Linked DNA regions of Homo sapiens. The protein of the gene in region 2 purifies or fractionates together with the protein of the main gene of each other region. This does not show direct contact. Each region holds a gene or a part of one and is shown on either strand. Other genes may lie near its edges.

Evidence for each region. The genes of interacting proteins can lie anywhere in the genome.
Region 1: the proteins of SZT2 (region 2) and SEC13 purify together in Homo sapiens (affinity purification with western blotting; one study listed by BioGRID and IntAct). This does not show direct contact.

What each region holds. Positions count from the first base shown.
Region 1 is NC_000003.12:10,311,061-10,314,710, forward strand, and holds part of SEC13 (protein SEC13 homolog), read right to left. Parts: intron 1,671-3,650; coding exon 1,519-1,670; intron 1,039-1,518; coding exon 905-1,038; coding exon of another isoform or gene 770-904; exon of another isoform or gene 516-769; intron 1-515. UniProt on the Homo sapiens protein: Functions as a component of the nuclear pore complex (NPC) and the COPII coat. At the endoplasmic reticulum, SEC13 is involved in the biogenesis of COPII-coated vesicles.
Region 2 is NC_000001.11:43,396,355-43,400,004, forward strand, and holds part of SZT2 (KICSTOR complex protein SZT2), read left to right. Parts: intron 1-3,650.

The DNA of each region.
Region 1 (3,650 bases), on a different chromosome or scaffold from region 2:
CCTGCCTGTGTGGAGTCTGTGTGTTCTCCCTGTGTCTGCGTGGGCTCTCTCCTGGTACTCTGGTTTCCTTTCACACAATAAAGATGTGCATGTTCACTTCAATGGTACGTCTGCATTGTCCCAGTGTGAGTGTGGGGGTGTGTGTGAGTGCTCCTCTGGTGGAATGGTATCCTGTCCAGGGCTGGCTTCTGCCTCATGCCCTAAGCTGCCAGGACAGGCTCCAACCACCTGTGACCCTGAACTGGAATGAGTAGATTAGAAAAAGAATAGATACAAATTATTGTAGAATTAAACTCATAAAATATCCAATAATCATACAGATGCATGACAGCAAACGATGTGGCATTAGTCATATGAGCCCCCCACATTGGTTATTGTTGGTTTTTGAACTGTGTGGTGGTAGGAGGTAGGACATTGATGTTCGCTTTGCAAACATTTATTCCTTGATTGAACCACCAACATCACGACCACTGTCACTCGCTGATTCACCAAAAGTTGGGTAAAGAATGACCTTGTTTATATTAATCTTTCTTAAATGTATGCATAGCTCACATACTTTTTAAAAGTTTTAATAACACCACTCCATTCTACAGGGTCCCAATGACTACTGCAGGGCATGTCACCTGGAGGCAACCATAGCTAAGGTGGCAGTGAGCAGGCTGCTGCTGCACCAGCCCTCCCCTGCTTGGGAGCACACAACAAGGAAGCAGTGCCAAGCCCTGCCTGGTCTGGCTTCAGGGCAGAGAGGCTCAAAGCTGCTCTAGAGCAATCATGTCTGGTCAGCTGACCACTCCCCGGCCCACTGTCCAGCGGGGACCCTCCCGTGCCACCCTCTAGGGAGGCTGCAGCAGACACGGGGCAAGGCAGGCGCTCTCACTGCACGAAAGGCAGGGGATGGACTCACGGTGTGAGCGTTGTTGATCTTCTTTACTTCCCATTGGCCTTCCCCGGTGTAAGTCAGCAGGGAGATGGCCCCATCCGAGCTCCCACAGGCCAGGATCAGGCCGTAGTCATGGGGGGCCCAGCACACCGAGTTCACTGCGGGAAGAGGGAGAGTGCAGTGAGCAAAGCAGGGAGACCGCGGCCCCAGGTCCCGCCTTCCACAGATTTACTGTTTTACTAAATGTCTACAACAAACAACTGTAGGAGTCACCGGGGGAAGCTGTAACTTGGTCAACTGAGGACACAAAAAAACCCCATCACCTACTAATACCACGATTTCATAACCTACAGTCTATCTAACAAAAAAGTGGGTAGGAAAACAATCTGAGAATGAAGGGTAGTCCTTGCAATGAATAATCCTGAAGAGAAACTCACCTGTCTTTTCTTATTTGCTTTGGACTGGCTTTAGGTCTTAGGGCCTTACTCAGCTGAGGACAGAGTAGCAGAAAAGCCAACCAAAGCTCAAGAGACAGACAAGAGGCACCACGAGGGGCAGGGAGCCAGGGCTCCAGCCGGGACAGAGTCCTTTTTTACCCAGTGGTCCCCTTGCCCGCTCTGCTGCCAAGCTCAGCATACCTGAGGAGTCGTGTCCCGCATGCTCGTGGCTCTTCTCCCAGGTGCCGTTTTCCTCTCTCCAGATAATGACTTTCCGGTCATAGGAGCACGATGCCAGGATGTTGCCGTACATGGGGTGAGCCCAGGCCACTTGCCACACAGGACCCTCATGACTACAAAGGGAGAGATAGGCCAGAGGAACCCACAGTGCCTCTGCAGGCACTACTTTGGACAGAACTAAATGGCTCCCTGAGACGATATATCAGGGCAGAATTGCTTAAGAACTTCAAAGGGAGAACTATACAATGCCATTGCAAAAGGGGTGCTCAGTGGACAGTGAGGAGCCTGAGGTCCTAAGAGGTTAAGCAACCTAAGGTCACAGAGCCTTTGAGAGAGAGTTGAGCCTCTGGGTCAGCCTTCCTGTCCTGGCCAGGCAGGAGCCTCACTTGCCCAGACTGCAGCCAGCACTGTCTGTATGTGCTGTCTACAGCATAGTCATTAATTGGTCCAAGGTTTCCAGCCAGAAGTGTTCAGGAAATATTTGTAGACTGAATTGCTATTCATCCTTCCCGACGGTCAGCTTCCTGAGGAGGCATTATTGGTTTCATTTTGATGTTTTCCACTACTCTTTTAATTTGTTCGAAAGGCATGTCTTTCCCTTCTCTTCTGATCTTTATCCATTCACCTGATAACAGGTGCTATCTGAGCACATGCTCTGTGCCAGGCTTTGTACGGTGACCATTTCTCTGGCCCAGGGAAGGTTTTGCACCTTAGCACTCAAGAGGTAGAGTAGCATGGTAGAGTTAGTGGTTAGGAGACCAGACCCATTCTCCCATTCACTAGCTCTTGACTTTAGGCAAGGATATCTTTGTCTCTTTACCTGAAAATGGAGACATCAATAAGAATTCTTTCATAAAGTTTGGAACAATGCTTGGTAGAAGGAAAGAAAAAAGCCACTCAATACCCATTAGCTATTAGTGCTGCTCCTGGTTTACTCCTTCACCGTGGGCTGCACACACTCAAGTCTCCTCCTCCCTCTGGCTGGGACAACAGGACATTCCCAGTCCCTACAAAGCTGCTGCTAATGAAACTGAGTAGACTCAATCTTCCAACAACTAGCACAGTTTTTACTAAGGGGAAAAAAGAATGGGGTGGGAATTTTTTTTATCCCTCCAATATTTCACATCCTTTGAATGTAAGAAAAACAGCAGAAAGGACAGAGTCACAGCAAACATAACTGCCTTGGCCAACACGCTGCACTGCAGCAGCTCTCTGCCTGCCTGGGGGGCTCCTGCATAGAGAAGCTTGATTTGGCTCCTCAGTCACTTGATCATTTGACACTCAGACAGAGGGGAGCTTCTAGGCCCATTTCCCCAAATGGACACTGACTTAGTTTATGCTTTTTAATTCAGTGAACAAACACATGCTGAGCACCCACCTGTCATGGCTCTTAATCTTTTCTGTGCATTCTGGGGAAGGTTATGGACCCTCATCAGACTAATGTACAAAACACACAGAACTAGGCTTATAAAGAAAATTCAATTATAAATTATACAGTAATCAACTTTTTTTTTTTGAGAAGGGTTTCACCCTGTCATCCAGGCTGCAGTGCAGTGGCACCATCGTGGCTCACTGCAGCCTCAAACTCCTAGGCTCAGGCCATCCTCCCACCTCAGCCTCCCAAAGTGTTAAGGATTACAGGCGTGAGCCACCTTGCCCAGCCTGTTATCAAAATATTATAAAGCAATTTATGAGATAGTGATGCATGTACTTCTTTGTTAACACTTCAAGCAACAAACCCTAGCGGCAGGTCTAATAACCACTGTAATTTCAAAGTTGTGATGAGCATAAGTGGTATTTTGAGGTAGCTAAGTAACCGTGATGTGTGATGACAATATCTGTGAATTCTACTGGTGACAAAGTGACAGGCACTACAAATACTACTGAAGTTTCTGGCCTACATCCATAATTGAAGGAAATGCTAAATATCAGAGTCACTGAAAATGCATTTTTTTCCCCCTGTCCCAATTCATCAACCCCTGAACTCTATTCACAGAACCCTTGGAGATCCACGGCACCCAGGCAAACCCACAAATACGTGAAAGGCAGTGAGCTGAGGGAAAGCAGTAGAGATGTGGCCATAAAAATGAGCC
Region 2 (3,650 bases):
TTCTCCCTGTGTGGCCTTAGAAGGTAAAACAAAAAGTGGGTTAGATATTTTCAAGACAACAGATTTTAAGAGTAGGTCAAGATATTATCAAAAAGACAGATTCTGGCTCTATGTGAGGACATTCCCAACTCTACCAACTAAACAGGTATGGGCAAAAAAAACAAAGAAACAACACTGAAGTGAATGGCTGTGCAGGACTTCTGACTCAAAGAAGAGAGGTAAACAGCAACACTTTGTTATTACTAATCTGTGCATTTATACACGTTACTTTTTACAAGGTGCTTTCACACATCATTGGGCTAGCTGGTATTTTTACACAGGAGGAAGCTCACCCAGAGTCTTAGCTGTCAAATCACAACACTTTCTTTCTGTAACACTGTTCTTTCTAAAACAAAGCTAATGGAACATAAAGCAAATCTGTTAGAACCCCCATTTGCACTCCCCCAGGGTTCCAGGAACAATAAAGAAGAAGATACTAGTGAAAATGTGGTAAAAACGATGTTTGTGGAAGCAAAGGAAAAACTCCAAAAATAGAATAGCTTACCTTGTCCATAAATGATTGAAAGATGAAGTGAATAAAGGACAGGAACTCTTCGTCAACAAAAACCATGTTGATAGAAGAGTGAAAAATTAGAAATTATTGGTAACAAATTAAGAATAGCTGGAAACAGAATAAATACAGCTTGTGAGATTAGTTTTCCTTGTTCATACATGTATTCAACAGTTATTATTAGAACACTTAGTATGTCTTGGCACTGTGCTAGGCTCTAGGGTTACAGCAAGAAACAATGTATAGGCCAGGTGTGGTGGCTAACACCTGTAATCCCAGCACTTTGGGAGGCTGAGGCCAGTGGATCACCTGAGGTAGAAGTTCGAGACCAGGCTAACATGGCAAAACCCTGTCTCTACTGAAAATACAAAAATTAACTGGGTGTGGTGGCACGTGCTTATAGTCCCAGCTACTGAGGAGCCTGAGGCAAGAGAATCACTTGAACCAAGAGGCGGAGGTTGCAGTGAGCCAAGATGGCACTGCTGCACTCCAGCCTGGGTGACAGAGCGAGACTCCATTTCAAAAAAAAAAAAAGAAAAGAAACAATATGTAGACATGGCCTCCACCTCGCTGGATCTTCAGACTTATACAGGAAACAAACATTAAAGTATACAAATTCTTTTTTTTTTGAGATGGAGAGATGGATGGAGTCTTGCTCTGTTGCCCAGGCTGGAGTGCAGTGGTGCAATCTTGGCTCACTGCAGCCTCCACCTCCTGGGTTCAAGCGATTCTCCTGCCTCGGTCCCCTAAGTAGCTGGGACTACAGATGTGCTCCACTATGCCCGGCTAATTTTTGTATGTTTTGGTAGAGGTGGGGTTTCGCCACATTGGCCAGGCTGGTCTCGAGCTCCTGGCCTCAGGTCATCCACCCACCCCGGCCTCCCAAAGTGCTGGGATTACAGGTGTGAGCCACTACGCCCGGCCCCTACAAATTCTTAATTATAAACTCTGGCAGGTGTCATGAAGAAAAAATACAGAGTGCTGTGTGAATGCCCAACATAGGACCCTAACTTAGTGCAGACAGTCATGGAAAGGTTCATTTATTAAACCTAGATTTGCCGTGATTTTAGTCCTAGAAGATGAGGTGACCACGTGCCCAACTCTGTCCTTATAGTGCTGACCCACAACCATGTGCTCTTCCCCTTTTAACCCTGGCCTTACGTGGGCCAAAACGCTTTTCCTTGGTTTTTCCTTGCATAGCTGAAACAGGCTGGCATTTGAAAACAAAAAGTATTTAGTACCAAAGAACAAAAGGAAAGTAGTGTTGACACTAGTGTTAAGGTGATCTCATCTTGAGAAAAGTTGTACTAATTATGATTAGTTTTAAATGTCCAGTTTGCCGTGCTTAGAACATATAGCGAGAGGGGAAGAGGTGGTGGTGGGGAGAAAAAACCATAGCGAATTCACTTATTTAGAGAAATGTTATTGAACATCCTATGTGCCAGGCACTGCACTGGGCTCTGGAGACAGAGTGATAAACAAATGACTGCTGAATTAGGATAGCCTTCCTATTCTGATAATGCTCTGAGCCCCAAACCATCCCTTAACAAAAAAATTCTTTTTTAAAACTCCAGTAAGTCTCTTGTACATGCTTTTTTAGATAAGAACTTTGGCAGTATCCAGCATAGTCAACACATAATATCCCACCCACACTAGCTAAGTCAAACCTGAAGGAGAGGTTGCCTGGTTTAGTATCCCACCCTAAAACCAAGGATCAGAGAAAGAAAGGGTGAGTAATTGCTGTGATTTCCTTCTTTGCCAATAAATAGACCCCTTTTCTGTTTTTAGGAGCATGGCGATAAGAGTGTACAATTTGATGGGACTTTTCGATGGGGTGTGGTAGTCAGGAATAACTATCTACTTTTTGTAGCTAACTTAGAAATCATTTTGCAGTAGGTTGGGTGCGGTGGCTCACGCCTGTAATCCCAGCACTTTGGGAGGTGGAGGCGGGCAGATCACAAGGTCAGGAGTTCGAGACCAGCCTGGCCAATATGGTGAACCACCATCTCTATTAAAAATACAAAAAATAGCCAGGCATGGTGGCATGCCCCTGTAGTCCCAGCTACTCAGGAGGCTGAGGTGGGAGAATCGCTTGAACTGAGAAGGCGGAAGTTGCAGTGAGCCGAGATTGCGCCACTACACTCCAGCCTAGGCGACAGAGCGAGACTCCGTCTCAAAAAAAAAAAAGAAAAAAATCATTTTGCAGCGTATTGGTTTCCAATGCTACTTTAATCATCCTTGATACCTTCCTTTTTGTTACTTTCCTCCTATGTCCTGACTTATAATTAATCACCAGTTCTTTTCTGTCCTATCCTAAAGATCCCTTGAAATACAACTAAGTTCACTGTTTAGTTCAGCTGACTTTTTGTTTTCCATAATAAGACTTTCACCGTGAAAGATAGTGGTGGTTTTGCATCCTGGCATTATCTCATCAAGACCCAGTCTCACACAGTTCACAGAATGGCTACTTTGAGTAGCTCTAGTCTAAGCCACTGTCATCTCCCCTAGTTGTTAGTCTGCGGTGGGAGGGTGCTTTCTAAATCACACAGTAGCCAGAGGGAATTTTTTTTTTTTTTTTTTTTTTGAGACGGAGTCTCGCTAGGCTGGAGTGCAGTGGCGTGATCTCGACTCACTGCAAGCTCCGCCTCCCGGGTTCACGCCATTCTCCTGCGTCAGCCTCCTGAGTAGCTGGGACTACAGGCACCCGCCACCACACCCAGCTAATTTTTTGTATTTTTAGTAGAGACGGGGTTTCGCTGTGTTAGCCAGGGTGGTCTCGATCTCCTGACCTCGTGAACCGCCTGCCTTGGCCTCCCAAAGTGCTGGGATTACAGACGTGAGCCATGGTGCCCGGCCACCAGAGGGAATTTTTTTTAATGCAGATATAATGTTACTGTCTTGTGGAATTCCTTTAGTAGCTTAAACTCACTCAAAGGATGAATCCAAAATCCTAGCCAGGACCTGTCTCAACACAGTGTTGGAAAGCAGTGTAACAGAGAGTAGTATCTCCCAAGGTGTAATTTCATTTTATTATTATTTTTATTTATTTTTTGAGACAGAATCTTGCTGTTTTGCCCAGGCTGGAGTGCAGTGGTGTGAT